2 separate regions of the Homo sapiens genome follow, and region 2 is linked to region 1. Evidence: fine-mapped expression QTL. Tissue or cell type: whole blood. Region 1 holds a variant in brackets; the other region holds the start of a gene. All regions are shown on one strand. Distances are between the middles of the regions.

Region 1 (8,327 bases):
GTGCCACCTCCGCAAGGTTGCTGTAAGGACTCCACAGCACACGGTCCTGCTGCCAATGCTACACTCCCAATCAAGGGGAGTCACCCAGAATGTAATTACAGCCTCTTGCATAGTGCAAGGTGCACCTGCAATGTCATGTAGCAGATAACATGCCAGACCAGGCGCGTAGACTACAGCTACCACCATCATCAAAATAATCATAATAATAACACACATTATAAATACTCAGTCAATATATTATTTATAATACAATGTAATCACATATAGTGTAATGTAACTAATAACGATGTCAATTATAATTGAGATTTTAATTTCTAACAATAGACTTCATCATCATTTTTATGATGGTGACTTGGGATGCATGGTCCTGTACTCTGTCCACACTGCAGGTGCACTATGCAAAGAGGTTATGCAGACCAAGCTTTTAAATAAGCTCAGGAAGAATTCACAGAAGTTAAATGCATATTTGAAAGACTATTCTAGGCCGGGTGCAGTGGCTCATGCCTGTAATCCCAGCACTTTGGGAGGCCCAGGCGAGGGGATCACTTGGAAGTCAGGAGTTTGAGACCAGCCTGGCCCACATGGTCTCTACTAAAAATATAAAAATTAGCCGGGCATGGTGGCATGTGCCTGTAATCCCAGCTACTCAGGAGGCTGAGGCAGGAGAATCGCCTGAACCTAGGAGGCGGAGGTTGCAGTGAGCAGAGATCGCGCCACTGCACTCCAGCCTGGGCAAGAACGAAACTCCATCTCAAAAAAAAAAAAAAAAAATGACTATTCTAGATCACTGAGGGCATGTTTGGGATATCCAGCTGCAAACACAGAGAGAATCACCATATTTTCCCCAGAAACTATCACTCAGTGAGGTAGAAATTTTTTAAAAATCACGGAAACAAATCTGTCCAGGCAGCTGGATCCTGTGTGAAAACTGTGCAGCCTTGTTAGATTCTGGAGTGGGGAAAGAAGGGCAGTGCGGCTTCAAGGGCGTGTATATAGCCAGTGGGACACACAGACGATCACTGGCAGCCCACCCTGAGGCCCTGCATCTCTGGATTCTAGATTTCCACCTAGAATCCAGAATGCTTACCCACCAGAAACATTTTCATTGGAATGCTGTAACTTGTAAAAATTACTTACACGAAATAGTACTGTTTCAAATGTTTTGAGGTTGGAAAGGAGAGAGACTTTGAGGGTTGCTCAGTGGTATCCAGACACCCACCCTGGGCCTTCTGCAATGGATGTGTGGGGTGGATGGGGCAGAGGGGCCCACAGATGCCTTGGCCCCATGCCAAGCCTCTCTTCCAGCTATGAAGTTCAGATCTGCCTCTAACTGACGTGACTCCTTTGCTTATTTATCTGGTTTATTGTCTGTCTCTCCATGACTAGAACTTCTGTTCCTTGAGAGCAAGACGTTTAACTCTCTTGTTCACTGCTTTGGTCCCTGTGCTTAGCAAAGTGATTTGTTGCATGAGAGAATAGATGAATGAATGAATGAATGAATGAATGAATGAATGAATGAATGAATGAGTACTTTTAGGAAACACTGACTGGGGAGCCGGGTAGGCCAACAAACCATGACAAGGCTTTTGGTCACGACTCTAGTGGAGGAACATATCAGGTGGCATGGGGACACGTTGGGGGCCTGTGAATGGCACAAAACACGACAGGGAGTAGATAGGCTTTGCCCAGCCTTTGAGCTTCTGTCCTGGGCTGCATAGCACAGCCCTGGAGCCCCTGGGTCAGAGCGCTGGCCCTGTGCACCATGTGCCTGGTCTACCCTGGCCAGCCCTGCCGCTTCCCCCGGTGTGGCTCTGGGCGTGCCTCAGGCCCTGCAGCTACAACATGGGCACAATAATAGTAACACTGGCCATGTAGGGTCCCGTGAAGCTGGAGAAGCTGCTGGGCGTAGTGCCTGATGCCAGGCTCAGACGCATGCTCCATTCAGGTCTCTGGCTTCTCCCGGGCCGAGATAGAGAGCTGGAGCAGAGGCTCTGGGCCTGCCTGCTCTCCTGCCTGCCTGGATCCCAGAGACTTCTGCCTTCCAGTGGTCAGCAGGCCAGCTCCCGGCTTCTGCTGCACTAAGGCAGCTGGTTGAAGCAAACACTCTTGACCAGGAGAGCGGGCCGGGGGAAGAGCGGCCCAGACACAGCAGTTCCTGCTCAAGTTCCTGGGTCACAGGTGGTTTGGGGATCATAGCATCTTCAAAGGAAATCTGAAAAGGGAAAGGCAGGTCTTCTACCACCAGGCGTGGGGAAGTCCTGCTGCCTTTGCTGACTAAGACAGACCGTGGCGCCATCTCCACCGGGCCTTTCGTTTGGCAGGGGCAGTGATGGTGGCTCATGAGTATGCCACATTTTTTAGGTGCGTGTTATTCCTGAGGATATGAACTACATAGTTTCTCCCTTCCTGTGTGCTTAGAACGAATGCTCATCACACTGACAGTCCTGGTTCCAGGAACTCTTGGCATATTGAATTTGAAACACTGCCTGATGGGCAAGACCATATCCAGCTGTGCTTTCACAGACAGCCCCCACCCCTGCTGAGGGGGTCCAGTCCTGGGCAACTAAGGTACAATTAAGCCAAAGGAGTACCACCCCCCTATATTTGACCAAATTTGATGAGTAGCTATCATGATGAAAAAGAGAAAACAGCTTAGCTTTAAAGATCAAAGAGAGCCAGGCATGGTGGCTCATGCCTATAACCCCAGCACTTCGGGAGGCCAAGACATGTGGATCACTTAAGCACAGGAGTTTGAGACCAGCCTGGGCAACATGGTGAGACCTTGTCTCTACAAAAAATACAAAAATTAGCCGGGCATGGTGGTGCGCGCCTGTGATCCCAGCTACTCAGGAAGCTGAGCAGGAGGATCGTTTCAGCCCAGTTTAAGATCAGCCTGGGCAACATTGGGAGACCACGACTCTACAAACAATAAAAATGAAAAACAGATGGGCATGGTGGCATGTGCCTGTAGTCCCAGCTACTCAGGAAGCGGAGGTGGGAGGATTGCTTGAGCCCAGGAGGTTGGGGCTGCAGCGAGCCATGACCGTGCCATTGCACTCCGGCCTGGGCAACAGAGCAACACCCTGTTTCAAAAAAAAAAAAAAAAAAAAAAAAAAAAGATTGAAGAGAAGAAAGGAAGACTCCCTTGAATGCTTCCAGCCTGGTGATCTGCTATGCAAGAGTCTAATCCAACTTGGCAAATGCATAAGAAATAATGGATAATGGATTAAGGCACACAGCATTTTGTATGGGAAAATGCTGGCCCATTTCCAGTCACTCGGGCCATCTTTCCCTCCCCTTTAATGCTCTGCCAAAAGATTGTTTGGCACTTCCTAGGTAAAAGAGGTGGGAAACCTTAAAAATAGTGACCGACTGATGGGTCAGTTTTAGGAAAAGTTCCCGTGAGGTTGGTTTGACACTCTGAGTTAAGAGTGTGAAATTGGGGTAAAGGACTGGGTTTTCTGGTTCCTGCCTCACTTCTGGCTGCCATTCCCTCCAGCCTAAGACGGCCCCTCCACAGTCCACTCCAGTCCCCTTCACTAGAGGCTTCAGGAATCACTTGACTCTCCCGCCCTGGTTTTTCCATCACAACCCTTCTCACCATCTGCCTTGCCTTGGTCATGTTTGACTCTGCCTTCAACTGCAGATGGTGAGCCCAAGGCAGGCAAGACCATCTTGCTAGAAGTGGGGGGTGCTGAGGAGGAAGGTCTCGGGTGTGGGGAAGGGTCCTGGTAGTGAAAACCATGCAGGGCCTGCAGGGG[G/T]CACTCAACTGGAGATGCAGAATCAAGTCGCCGAGCTTGGAAGTCAGGTGACTGGGAGGGAACTTAGTTAAAATGAAAGTCTATGGGGAAGCTGGCCTTTCTTCTAACACTCCTGTTTGCTTTTTTTTTTTTTTTTTTTTGACACGGAGTCTCACTCTGTCGCCCAGGCTGGAGTGCAGTGGCGTGATCTCGGCTCACTGCAACCTCTGCCTCTTGGGTTCAAGCGATTCTCCTACCTCAGCCTCCTGAGTAGCTGGGACTACAGGCGCGTGCCACCACGCCCGGCTAATTTTTTGTATTTTTAGTAGAGACGAGGTTTCACCATGTTAGCCAGGATGGTCTCAATCTTTGGATCTCATGATCCGCCTGTCTCAGCCTCCCAAAGTGCTGGGATTACAGGTGTGAGCCACTACGCCCAGCCGGAAGTTTGCTTTTTATTGAGAGCTCAAGAGAAAGGGCAGAAATGTTTTCATGATCAATGTGAAAGTGTTACTTAGAACAGGGGTTGGCAAGCTACAGCCCGCGGGCCAAATCTGGCCTGCTGCCTGCTTCTAAGATAAAAGTCTTTCTAGAGCACAGCCGTGCCCTTTTGTGTCTGTGTTGTGTACGGCTGCCTTTGTATTACATCAGAGCTGAGTCGTTGTGACAGAAGCCATATAGCCTGCAAAGCCTCAACGAGTGTCTCTCCATCCTTTTCAGAAAACATGTGTCCACCCCCGATTTAGAATAGCCTCTGGGCTCTGGATATCTGCCCACACCTGGGCAGAAGACCATCCACTCACAGTGAACAATTTGAGACAATTCAGATGTAAACACACTGTTCAGAGCCAGTGTTGCAGCCCGGCCGGCAGGGTGTTTGTGATGGAGATCCCATGGCTGAGGGCCATGCAGAACAAGCTCGTGAGAACTGCTACTCCCTCGCCAGCATGCTGGAAAGATTCCTGCTTCAGGTTTGGGGCTTCCCAATCAATATATTTTTGAGACAGGGTCTTGCTCTGTCACTCAGGCTGGAGTGCCGTGGTGCGTGTCGGCTCACTGCAACCTCCTCCTCCAGGTTCAAGCGATTCTCCTGCCTCAGCCTCCCGAGTAGCTGCGATTACAGGTGCACGCCACCATGCCCAGCAAATTTTTTGTATGTTTAGTAGAGACAGGGTTTCACCATGTTGGCCAGGCTGGTCTTGAACTCCTGGACTTAAGTGATCTTCCTGCCTCAGCCTCCCAAAGTGCTGGGATTACAGGCATTAGCCACTGCATTCAACCCTAGTACATTTTTTTTTTTTTTTTTGAGACAGGGTCTCACTCTGTCACCCAGGCTGGAGTGCAGTGGCGTGATGTCGGCTCACTGCAACTTCCACCTCCTGGGTTCAAGCCATTCCCCTGCCTCAGCCTACCGAGTAGCTGGGATTACAGGCACCCACCACCATGCCCAGCTAATTTTTTTTTTTTTTTTTGAGACAGAGTCTTGCTCTGTAGCCCAGGCTGGAGTGCAATGGCATGTGTACGGCTGCCTTTGTATTACATCAGAGCTGAGTCGTTGCGATAGAAGCCTCCTGCCTCAGCCTCCCAAAGTGCTGGGATTACAGGCGTGAGCCACTGCATTCAACCCTAATACTTTTTTTTTTTTTTTTGAGACAGGGTCTCACTCTGTCACCCAGGCTGGAGTGCAGTGGCGTGATGTTGGCTCACTGCAACCTCTGCCTACTGGGTTCAAGTGATTGTCCCTGCCTCAGCCTCCCAAGTAGCTGGGATTACAGGCACCCACCACCATGCCCAGCTAATTTTTATATTTTTAGTAAAGACAGGGTTTTGCCATGTTGGCCAGGCTGGTCTCGAAATCCTGACCTCAGGTGATCCGCCCGCCTCGCCTTCCCAAAATACTGGGATTACAGGCGTGGGCCACCACGCCCGGCCAATTTTTTGTATTTTTAGTAGAGACGGGGTTTTGCCATGTTGGCCAGGCTAGTCTAGAACTCCTGGACTCAAGCAATCCTCCTGCCTTGGCCTCCCAAAGTGCTGGGATTACAGGTGTGAGCCACCATGCCCAGCCTGGCCCTAATACATTTTCAAGTGAGAGACAGATGGAGAAAGAGAGAGAATCTGTAGGTGCATTTAAAAAAAAAAAAAAAAAAGACACAAGTTCTGATTCTGGGAGACAGGAAATGTGCGCCACCCGCCTTGTCAACCCCACTGAAAGTAGCTGTAATACATTCATAAAACACACAGGGCAGCTATTCGAGGACTCAGAAAGTTACCCAGTAGTAGGCAAGTTGGGGGAAAAGACTAGAATCCAAAATACCACCAAACCAGTATCTCCTGGCCTGGCCTTAAGGCAACCTGAAGGCTGAAAGTGGGAAGCAGATGGGAGAAGAGCGAGCTAGGAGGGGAGATACCTCTGTGGGGTTTTTCTTTTCTCTGTTTTCTCACACTCCTGCCTCCAGGCAGTCCTGCGGTGACTGTGGTGGCACTGCTGTGTCAAAGGGGCCTGCAGGTGCCTGAAACACTGAAAGAGGGGACCCTTCTCCAGTCCCAAGAGAACAGGGCAAAGCCCTGTCAATCCTTCCTTTCTCTGTCCTCCCACCACTTGACCCTGGTCATGGGTGCAGTCCCAGGAAGTGAGTGGCAGAGCAGGATAAATAACCTCAGTTTTCTGGCCAAAATACCAAAAAGAGGAGCACCAGGGAACTAGGAGTTATCAGGAGATGACAGAGAGGGGAGCTCAGGGAAGTAACTAAACACAGTGTTTGATGAGATCAAAGGCTCACCCCCAAGCTGTGCACGTGTGGGCCTGACCCTAAACGGCATTTCAGAGACACTGAGACATGAACTGTGGCCAGCTCACTGCCAAGTCCCCAGGTGCCCCTGGGTGATGTGCACATAGCACAGAGCTGCATGGTCGGTCACTGCACGGCACTGCAAAGTTGCTGAACACAGGACTGACATGGAAACCACACTCTGAGAAGCCTGGCTGGAACATGCAACCTGAACCCAACTGAATCAGTCATCTGCTAAGACAAAAATAATGACATTTGCCATAGGATTTAAACAAGACCCAGAGCCTCATAACAATATTTAAAATGTCCAGGATACAAAATTACTTAGCGCAGGGAGAACCAGGAACATCTCTACTCACATGAGAGCAGATACAGATGTCACCACCACGTAACTCAGATACTGGAATTAGCGGATGAAAACTCGAAAGCGGCTATTACAAGAAACTTCCAACTGGTAAAAACACAGAAAGATACAGTCTCAGCAAAGACACAGAAGGCAGAAAGAACCGATGCGATAAAAAACTCACAGGACAAGCTCAATAGTGGAATAAAAAAACAAGGGAAGATTCAGTGACCCTGACAATAGTTCAATACAAATTATCACATGTGACTGATAGAGAGTAAAAACAATAGGGGCCAGGCATGGTGGCTCACGCCTGTAATCTCAGCACTTTGGGAGGCCAAGGCGGGAGGATTACTTGAAGTCAGGAATTCCAGTCCAGCCTGGCCAACATGGTGAAACCCTGACTCTATTAAAAATACAAAAATTGGGCCGGGCGCGGTGGCTCATGCTAGTAATCCCGGCACTTTGGAAGGTCGAGGCGGGTGGATCATGAGGTCAGGAGATTGAGACCATCCTGGCTAACACAGTGAAACCTCGTCTCTACTAAAAAATACAAAAAATTAGCCGGGTGTGGTGGCACGTGCCTGTAATCCCAGCTACTCGGGAGGATGAGGCAGGAGAATAGCTTGAACCTGGGAAGCGGAGGTTGCAGTGAGCTGAGATCGCACCACTGCACTCCAGCCTGGGTGACAGAGCAAGACTCCATCTCAAAAAAAAAAAAAAATTAGGCACGGTGGTGTATGCCTGTAACTCCAGCTAATGGGGAGGCTGAGGCATGTGAATTGCTTGAACTTGGGAGGCAGAGGTTGCAGTGAGCCGAGATCATGCCACTGCACTCTGGCCTGGGCAACAGAGTGAGATTAGGTCTCAAAAAAAAAAAAAAAAAAAAAAAAAAGAAAGAAAGAAAAAATGATAAGAAAAAAAAAGACTGGAGCCTCAGGGACCTGTGGGACAACAGCAAAAGGGTGAATGCTTTGTGTTATTGGAGTTGCAGAAGGAGAGGAGAGAGAGTAGGGTGCAGGAAGTTACGTGAAGAAATAAAGGCTAAAAACTTTGCAAGTTTGGAGGAAAATACAAACCTATAAATTCAGGAGCTCAGCAAACACCAAAAAGAATAAGCCCAAAGAAATTCATCCCAGACATGTCATAATTATACTAGTGAAACCTAAAAATAGGCCGGGCACGGTAGCTCACACCTGTAATCCCAGCACTTTGGGAGGCCAAGGCGGGTGGATCACCCGAGGTCAGGAGTTCAAGATCAGCCTGGCCAACAAGGGGGAAACCCTATCTCTACTAAAAATACAAAAATAAGCCAGGCATGGTGACGCATGCCTGTAATCCCAGCTACTCAGGAGGCTGAGGCAGGAGAATCGCTCAAACCTGGGAGGTGGAGGTTGCAGTGAGCCGAGATTATGCCGCTGCACTCCTACCTGGGCGACAGAATGAGACTCC
Region 2 (8,327 bases), 29 kb after region 1:
CATCTCTGGGCTCTGTCCTCAGCTGTACCAAGCACTAATTTCACTGGTGCACTGGTAGCTCCTTCAAAGCAGCTAATGCTCCAACGAAAGAAACATAAAAGCTCCAAGACATCGGTCCTCCCCAACAGCTCACAAAGGACAGGACTGATCCTCCACTTGGCAAATGGACCATGGAGTGGAGTGAGGGGCCTTCCTTGAGTGAGCGCCTCCCTCCTCCCCAGTTCTGTGCTCCGGCCTTGGGTCAGGCTGACCTGCACCGGCCAACTGCAAAGGTTTGGGGAGCTCGGAAACTCATTAACAGGCTCCGATAATGAGACCGTCGGAAAAGCCCAAGAGCTTGCCTGTCTAGGTAGACCAGAAACCAAACTTACACCTGACAAGTGGAGTGATCAGAGAGCTGAAACCCAACAGGCGACATCAGCTAGGGCAGGCGAAAGCATTAATAATTGATTCCATGGGTCATTCTGGGGTTTTCATTTTAATAACTTGGCAAGAGAATTTTTATAAGTTGTGCTCCAAAAGAAATCAAGGCATTTTTCAATGAACCACCACCTCAAGTTGATGAAACCCCTCCCTTCTGACCTCCCTTCAGACACAGGTAGGACAGAATGGTGCTCAGCTATTCTCGGGATGGGGCAGGGTTCCTGGAGAGGAAGAGGAGGAGGAGGCAGAGGAGTCAGGGAAGAAGGGGAAGGAGGAGGAGGGGAAGGGAAGACGAGGAGGGGAAGAGCCCCAGCCAGTGCTCACCATTGTCGTTGTCTCTATGCAAGTGCTGGATCATGAAGGGGATGGGATCTTCGGGCTGGTGGATCAGGAGTTGCTCCAGCATGTTCTGTGGGTGCAGGGCAGACACCCAGGTGGTTAATACCTGCAAGGGCACCTGGTCACCACAGATACCAGCTATGGGGCCTGCTCTCTCCACTGCACCCCACCAAACATGCCTTCAACCTGGGACCCAGCCACCGCCCCAGCTGGCATCTGCTTGGGTCCCCATGAGCAGAGGCATGAGGGGGGCCACGTGGTGCTGCTGCGGAGGCACCTATGGGGAGGCAGAAGTGGAGGAGTCTCGCCCCTGATTCAGAGCAGGCAGTCCAGGGCTCTCTCCCCTGGGGCCCTTTGAGCTTCCCAGACCAGCCTTCTCCAAGTTCTCAAGCATCACCATTCCCCTCAGAGCCTTAGCAGATGCTGTTCCCTCAGCTTGGAAGCTTCTGCCTTGTCCTCATCCTGGCTAACTTCTGCTCAGTCTCAGATCTCAATGGGAACATACCTTCCTGAGTATGTGCACTACGTAAATATGTCAGATGCTCCTGCACCTGCCTGCGGGCATCGCCCTGTTCCACGCCTCACCCTGTCCCTACTCACCAGGCCACCATCCCCCCGGCAGGCCATGGGTTCTGTGGGCCTCCTTGTCTGCCTAGAGCCCTTGGCACCCCAATACCTGGCAGTCATAGCAGATGCCCAGCGCAGATGTTTGCTGGGGAACATGACCGTCACCACTAACTGTGTCTCTCCAGAATGGAACAGAATGTTACCAGCCAGATTTCTAAATAGTCCTGGGATATTCTGGCCATTTCATCCAATCAGGCAAGCATATCAAGAGAAAGCAGCTTCTGGGGTTGCAGAACCCTAGGCAGAGAAATGAGGAGGAGCTCATAGCAGCTGTGCTGCTGCAATAAGGGGTATCCTTGAGCCCCAGGGACAAGGAGGGAGGGGCTGTAGCCCTCTTGGAGTGAAGGGAGTGTGGGGCAGGGAAAGAGCACCGAGCCATGAGAAGTCTTGGTTCCAGCCCCACTGTATCTCATCAGCAAGTCCCTTCCCTTCTCTGGGCCTCAGCTTCTCTGCCTGTTCAGTAGCACAGCTGGAGTGAATTCATGTTTGTATGTCACTGGTGCGATGATGGAATGAGATGATTTTAGATGGTTCACACATAAATATTTTACATTTCATGTTTAAATCATTGTGTATTTAACGTGTATTAGAAATATAAGTACATCAAATCAATAATTTCAAGGATATCACTTAGGATGAGGCAAAAGCGGCTATTTAATTTTTTAAAAGGTGAGTTGATTTAAACAAGTGATTAGTTTAAATGGAGGTGCAGTAGCGGTTATGCAAATCTGTACATGTGATACAACTGCACAGAACTGTATGCACAACAAAAACATCAATGCAGGTAAAAATGGAGGAAATCCAAACAAGGCCTACAGTTCAGGTAATCCTATTGTACCAATGCCAGTTTCCTGGTTTTGACAATGTGCTACAGTTATGTTAGATGTTATCACGGGGGCAATGTGGGAGGGGAGACCAGAAATCCATACTATTTTTTAACTTCCTGTGAATCTAACATTATTTTAAAATCAAAAGTATAAAAAATGGAAATGGTCAAAAACATGGAGGGAATCCACAGATGACTAAGGACTGGAAATACTGGACTGAAAGCTTTCTTGTTGGGAGGCCGAGGCAGAAGGACTGTTTGAGCCCAGGAGTTCAAGACCAGTCCGGGCAACATAGCAAGACCTCGTCTGTACTAAAATTAAAAAAAAAACATTAGCCAGGTATGGTGGCCTGCACCTGTAGTCTCGGCTACTCTGGAGGGACTAAGGCAGAAGGATTGCTTGAGCCCAGGAGTTCAAGGCTGCAGTAAGCCATGATTGTATCACTGCACTCCAGCCTGGGCAGCAGTGCAAGACCCTGTTTCAAAATCAATAAAAGCTTTCCTGGGCAATTCCTCCAACAATCAATGTGGAAAACACACCAGGTTCTCTAGAGCAGACAACAGGGCTCCAGATGATCCCCCATCCTGCCCTGACCTGCTGACTTCTAACCCAGCTAGCTATTTGATTTGTGATTGGCCACTCAAGCAGTTTTAGGAATCTCTTGCTCTCCCTCTATCAGTTAACACTTTCCGAGGGAAATGTGTTTGATGGAGGTGCAGACACGGGTTTCTTCGTCTGGGCTCAGCTGTCTAGTGTGCAGGGCAGAACCTCAAATGACCACAGACACCACTATGCCCTCCATGCCATGCCCCTGGGGATGGGGTGTACCCTGGGAAGCAGACAAATGATCTGAAAACTGAGCTCCAGCTTCCCCTTGCCTCTCAGAACCTTTGAGTGGCTGAGAGTTCTTCCCCTCCAGCTCCTGAAAGCCTTGACCTCCACCACGTGCAAAAGGGAAAACTGGGGCCCTGGCGGGGACGGGGCCTCGCCCAAAGTCACACGGTGAGCTGGGGGCCCAGTCAGGCCTGGAGCCAGAATGAGAGCTTCGGAGCTGCCGGGGACGTCTGGCCCTGAGGAGGAGGGACCAAGGTGGGAGATGCTGCTGTCCCAGAGGCGGCCCTCTCTGAGGATGGAGATGCCAGCTTGAACTCGGACAATGCCCACCTCAGAAACCTGGGCCGAGAGGCTCCCCACAAATTCGACAGATGGTAATTGTCAGCGCCGGGAGAGCCCCTGGGAGACCACCTCTTGCAACCTGGCATTTCACAGGTGGGGAAACCGAGAAAAGGAAAGGACTGGTTCCAGACCATAAGGCCCGCTGGCGGCACAGCCAGGACCAAATCCCGGCTCGAGTGGCCCCCTTCCTCCCCCTGGGTCCGCCTGAGGCAAACCCGGGCAGGACCAGGAGCGTCCCCAGCTCGAGGGCCCCCTCGGGGTCACGGCGACACACGAATCGTACATCCCGAGTTGGGCTGCTTCGTGGGCGCGCGACTCGGCCCCAGCTGCGGGTCCCGGCCGCGCACCCGACGTCGCAGTGGAGGCTCCCGAGCCGCCGCCAGCGTCGCGACGGGCAGGGGTGTCCGGTCACCTGCATCAACTCGAAGATGTGGTTCTCCTCCCCGTACTGGGGCATCTCGGGGGGGATACGGTGCGGGGCGATAGTGGCGTCCATGTAGCCGTCTCGGCTCGCCGCTCCCTAGTAACCGCGTCGCTAGGGCCGCCGCGCCGACTGCGTCATCAGCACGCGCCGCGGCCCCGCCCTGCAGGCTCCGCGCCGGGCCCAGATACCCGATCCTCGGTCGCGCGGGTCGCCCCCGCCCCGACCTCCCCGGCTGACGCGCTCTGCGGCTCGGGCAAGTTCTTTCCCCAACCCCGGCCTCGCTTTTCCCATTTGCGCATCTTAGCGGGGGACACCCTCAGGTGGCTTCCAGCTGGGCCTCCTCGTATCTGAGACCCCCGACGAAACCCAGAAGGGGCAAGTCGGCCCTCCGAGGGGACGGGAGGCAGAACCTGCTTCTGGTTCTGTCAGTGCTCCCCGGCCCGGCTCCCTGTGCCTCAGTTTACCCATCTTTAAAACAGACGCGGGAATAAATGTGGGGGAGGGTGTTTGAAGGGGGAGGGGCGTCCATGAGATGGGCCGGAGGTTCGAGGATCGGGTGGAAATCCTCAGCCCAACTCCTAGAGTCGAGCCCCGGTAGACCCCTCCCAGCTCCCCGGCTCTGGCCAAGCCGCCAAGTGACCCGATTGCTATGGCACCGGCGGTAACAATCACGCCCGCGGCCCCGCCCCTTCTCGCCCGACGTCCCCACCCACCCTCGCCTCCCAAGTCCTGGAACGGGCCTCCCCACCCTCCGGGGCACCGACACTCACGGAGTCACTCCAACTTCTCTGGGTGCTCCGTGGAGCGAAGAGCGCTCTAGGACAAGCAAGGGTAAACAGGGATGAGTGTGGGTGGGCCCACTCGGACCCCACCCCGGCCTCTGGGTCAGAAACTGGAAGCTGGGGTGGAGGATGGAAAGATGGAGGGGTCCGGAGGATGGAGGGGCCTGCACAGCTGTCTCGGGGTGGGGGCGAGGGGAAGGTTCGCGCTGGAGACGGAGCTTTTTAAGTCGTATGAATTCCCAGTGGTACGGGGCAGCTTGATATTTTATTAGTCGCAACACTGAATTGGGATCTCTAGCTCTTGTCTGTTGCCGTTAATCGTAGGAGCTGTAAGAGTTTGTTGAACTCTTTGTGCTCTCGGCAAAATTCTGTTGTCTCTGTACCTTATGGAGAGGGAAAATGGCACAGTCAATGCAGACAGCCCCAGCTTCAAGTTCTGGCTCCGCTTCTTACTGTGTGAGCTTGGCAAACTCTCTGCTTGCTCCGTGCCTCACTTTCCTGCCCTGTGAAGAGGGAACTGCTGAAGGATTTCAGGAGCTAATGTATTGGAGAGTAATTGGCATGCAGTAAGCACACAATATATGGGGCTACTATTAGTAGTAGTATCTCATTTAATCGTTCCAACAATCCTGTGAAATAGGCACCTTCATTCCCATTTTACAGATGAGAAGTTGGAGGATTAGAACAATGAGGAGTGGTTGGCTGGGTAACTTTGGGTGAGTCACTTCCCCTTTCTGGGCTTCTTTTCTCATCAGTTGTTGATCATACAGCCTTAGAACCAGAAGGCCTCTTGAAGAAGAGGCTAATCCAAACTCTCTCATTTGACAGATGGATAAACTGAGGCCCAGAAAAGGGGGAAATCTTGGCTAGGGCCACTGGTTAGATTGGGCAGAGCCAGGGCATGAACTCTGCATCCAGGCTCCAGCTAAAGCCCTTTTCTACCAGCCATCAGCCCAGAGACATGCCCTCCCAACGTAAAAGCCAGCACTGTTGCCTCTTCCCCTCCAAACCGCTTCCTCAAAGTGTGTACACCTTGGTAGGCTTGTCAAACCCAACTGTAAAGATAGCTGGGGAAGAAAAGGAAGCTGCCTCCCCCTGAGCAAAGAACACAACAGCCATGCCTGCCATTTGCACTGGAGAGGTTTGTTTTGCTTCCTGGACATTTCTGAAATGACTTGCCTTTCTCCTCATTTATTTTAAGCCCTAGGCGCTTTTCCTACCATGATTCAATCTTCTTTAGCAGCCTGGAAAAATACAAATCAATTAAAGCCTAAAACCTATGGGTAATCATTTTTTTCCTCCCTCCTCCCCCAGATCGAGAAGTGCCCGTCCCCTGTGCCCTTCATCCACACTAATTTGGCTGCAGTGGCTCTCGTTCAAGGGACGATCACTTCGGATAGCTTATTACAGCTCCTCTCATGACATTCCTGGCGTGCATGTCACAAGTTGCTAGGATCAAGAACAGAGTCAGTTCCTCTCAACCACTACCAACCACAGCTCCCACCATGATGAGGGAAAAGCCAGGCCGAAAGGGCACACGCCCTTTCTCCCTGGAACTCCACCTATGTGCTCTCTCTCACTTTTCTGGAGCTTCACCTTTGAGTCATTTGTAAGCCCTGGGCCAACATTAGGGCAAGGCAAGTGATGCACCCTCAGCACAAAACTTAAGGGAGTGCCGGCAATTCAATCATTGAGGTGGATGTTTTTCACGTTTTAATGCAATATATTTTAAAAATCAAAAATAATGCTGCCTAAAATCCATTTAGAATAACATGTCAAAAATTTAAGTAAAGGTAGGCTCAGTGTTACTGATTTCTCCTTTTGCCTCAGGCCTCAGTATGGCAAGGTGCAGCTATCTTTTTTTTTTTTTTTTTTGAGATGGAGTCTTGCTCTGTCGCCCAGGCTGGAGTGCAGTGGCGCCATCTCGGCTCACTGCAAGCTCCGCCTCCCAGGTTCACGCCATTCTCCTGCCTCAGCCTCCCGAGTAGCTGGGACTACAGGCGCCCGCCACCGTGCCCGGCTAACTTTTTTTGTATTTTTATTACAGACAGGGTTTCACCGTGTTGGCCAGGATGGTCTCAATCTCCTGACTTCGTGATCCACCCACCTCGGCCTCCCAAAGTGCTGGGATTACAGGCGTGAGCTACCGCGCCCAGCCAGCAATCTTTTCTTTACAAATTCTGATGTTGCCAGCTCATGCTTCTAATCCCAGCACATTGGGAGGCTGAGGTGGGAGGATCGCTGGAGCCCAGGAGTTCGAGACCAGCCTGAGCAACATAGGGAGACCCCATCTCTACAAAAAAAAAGAAAAAAAAAAAAGAAAAAAAAGAAGAAAAAAAAAAAAAGAAAAAAGGTAGTCAGGCATGGTGGCACATACCTGAGGTCCCAGCTACTCAAGAGGCTGAGGCGGGAGGATCACTTGAGCCCAGGAGGTCAAGATTGCAGTGAGTCGTGATCACAGCACCACACTCCAGCCTGGGTGAAAGAGCAAGACCCATTCTTTAAAAAACGTTTTTGGGGCTGGGTACAGTGGCTCATGCCTATCATCCCAGCACTTTCGGAGGCTGAGAAAGGGAGATCACTTGAGGCCAGGAGTTCAAGACCAGCCTAGCTGACGTGGTGAAATTCCATCTCTACTAAAAATACAAAAAATAGCCAGGTGTAGTGGCACCCACCTGTAATCCCAGCTACTCAAGATGCTTTTTTTTTTTTTTGAGACAGGGTCTCACTGTGTCACCCAGGTTGGAGTGCAGTACTGCGATCATGGCTCACTGCAGCCTTGACCTCCTGGGTTCAAGCGATCCTCCTGCCTCAGCCTCCCAAAGTGCTGGGATTATAGGCATGAGCCACTGTGCCTGGCCTATTTTCATCTTGATTGCCGAGTTTTTTGGCGCCTCCTTAAGTTTTGCATGGGGGCAAGTGTCTCCCTCACCTCACCCTAGTTGGTCCTGGGTGAGCCGGACACCACGGGAGGCACAACAGGAAACCACTGTGCGTGAGTCAGCATGTCTGCTCCATGTGGCAGGGACCAGCCAAGGATATGGCAGGTGTCAATAAACCATGGACCCCCCATCTCATTCCCCACCTTCAGCTCTCCTTTCCATAGGAGGTTGAGCTGGAAAGAGGCCCCTGCCCTGCCTGCCCTGGCCCAGGCCCACCCCCAGGGCAGCTGCGACTGTCCCTGTGTCTGTTGACAGTCACAGTGCTGTGGCTCTGCTGCAGAAGCATACTCTCTTGTCTTTCCAGGAGACTCACTCAGTGGCTCTTAAGGTGGCTCCTCTAAGGCAGCCTTGCTGGCTTTTGGCTCCAGGGATAGAGGCTCCATGGCTGGGCTCCATCTTGCTAAAGGGCCTCTTCCCCAGCCTCCTCCAAGTGCTCTGATGTACCACCCCCATCATCTCGCGGAGGCCATCTCCTGGTCTGTTCTTGTGTTTCCTTTCATTCCTCTGATGCCATCTCTTCTTGCATCAACTGGGATGCTCCCCCTACCCTGCCTCTTTTTTTTTTTTTTTTTTGAGTCAGGGTCTCCCTGTGTCCTAGGCTGGAGTGCAGTACTGCGATCATGGCTCACTGGAGCCTTGACCTCCTGGGTTCAAACTGGACCCCCAGCTCCAGCCCTGCTCTGGACACAGCAGAAAGAAATATTTCCCAGCCCCGTCTTGTTATTCCTATCCACCTGGGACCTGCTTGGAAGCTTGGAATGTGCCTTCCCTGCCCCAGTCCATGCTA

The links.
Region 2: it holds the start of AK8, and the variant in region 1 is fine-mapped to the expression of AK8 in whole blood (TOPMed, PIP above 0.99).

The regions. Positions count from the first base shown.
Region 1 is chr9:132,845,026-132,853,352 of GRCh38, forward strand. The region is part of intron 5 of AK8 (adenylate kinase 8); the gene reads right to left. Among named protein-coding and RNA genes, the nearest start is that of AK8, 29 kb to the right of the region's middle. The variant G/T (reference allele first, on the strand shown) is at 3,762.
Region 2 is chr9:132,874,368-132,882,694 of GRCh38, forward strand. It overlaps AK8 (adenylate kinase 8), which reads right to left and starts at 3,917. Exons shown (of 13, transcript NM_152572.3): 1 at 3,805-3,917; 2 at 748-832. The coding sequence starts at 3,888. SPACA9 (sperm acrosome associated 9) reads left to right here and starts at 4,531. Exons shown (of 4, transcript NM_001316897.2): 1 at 4,531-4,647.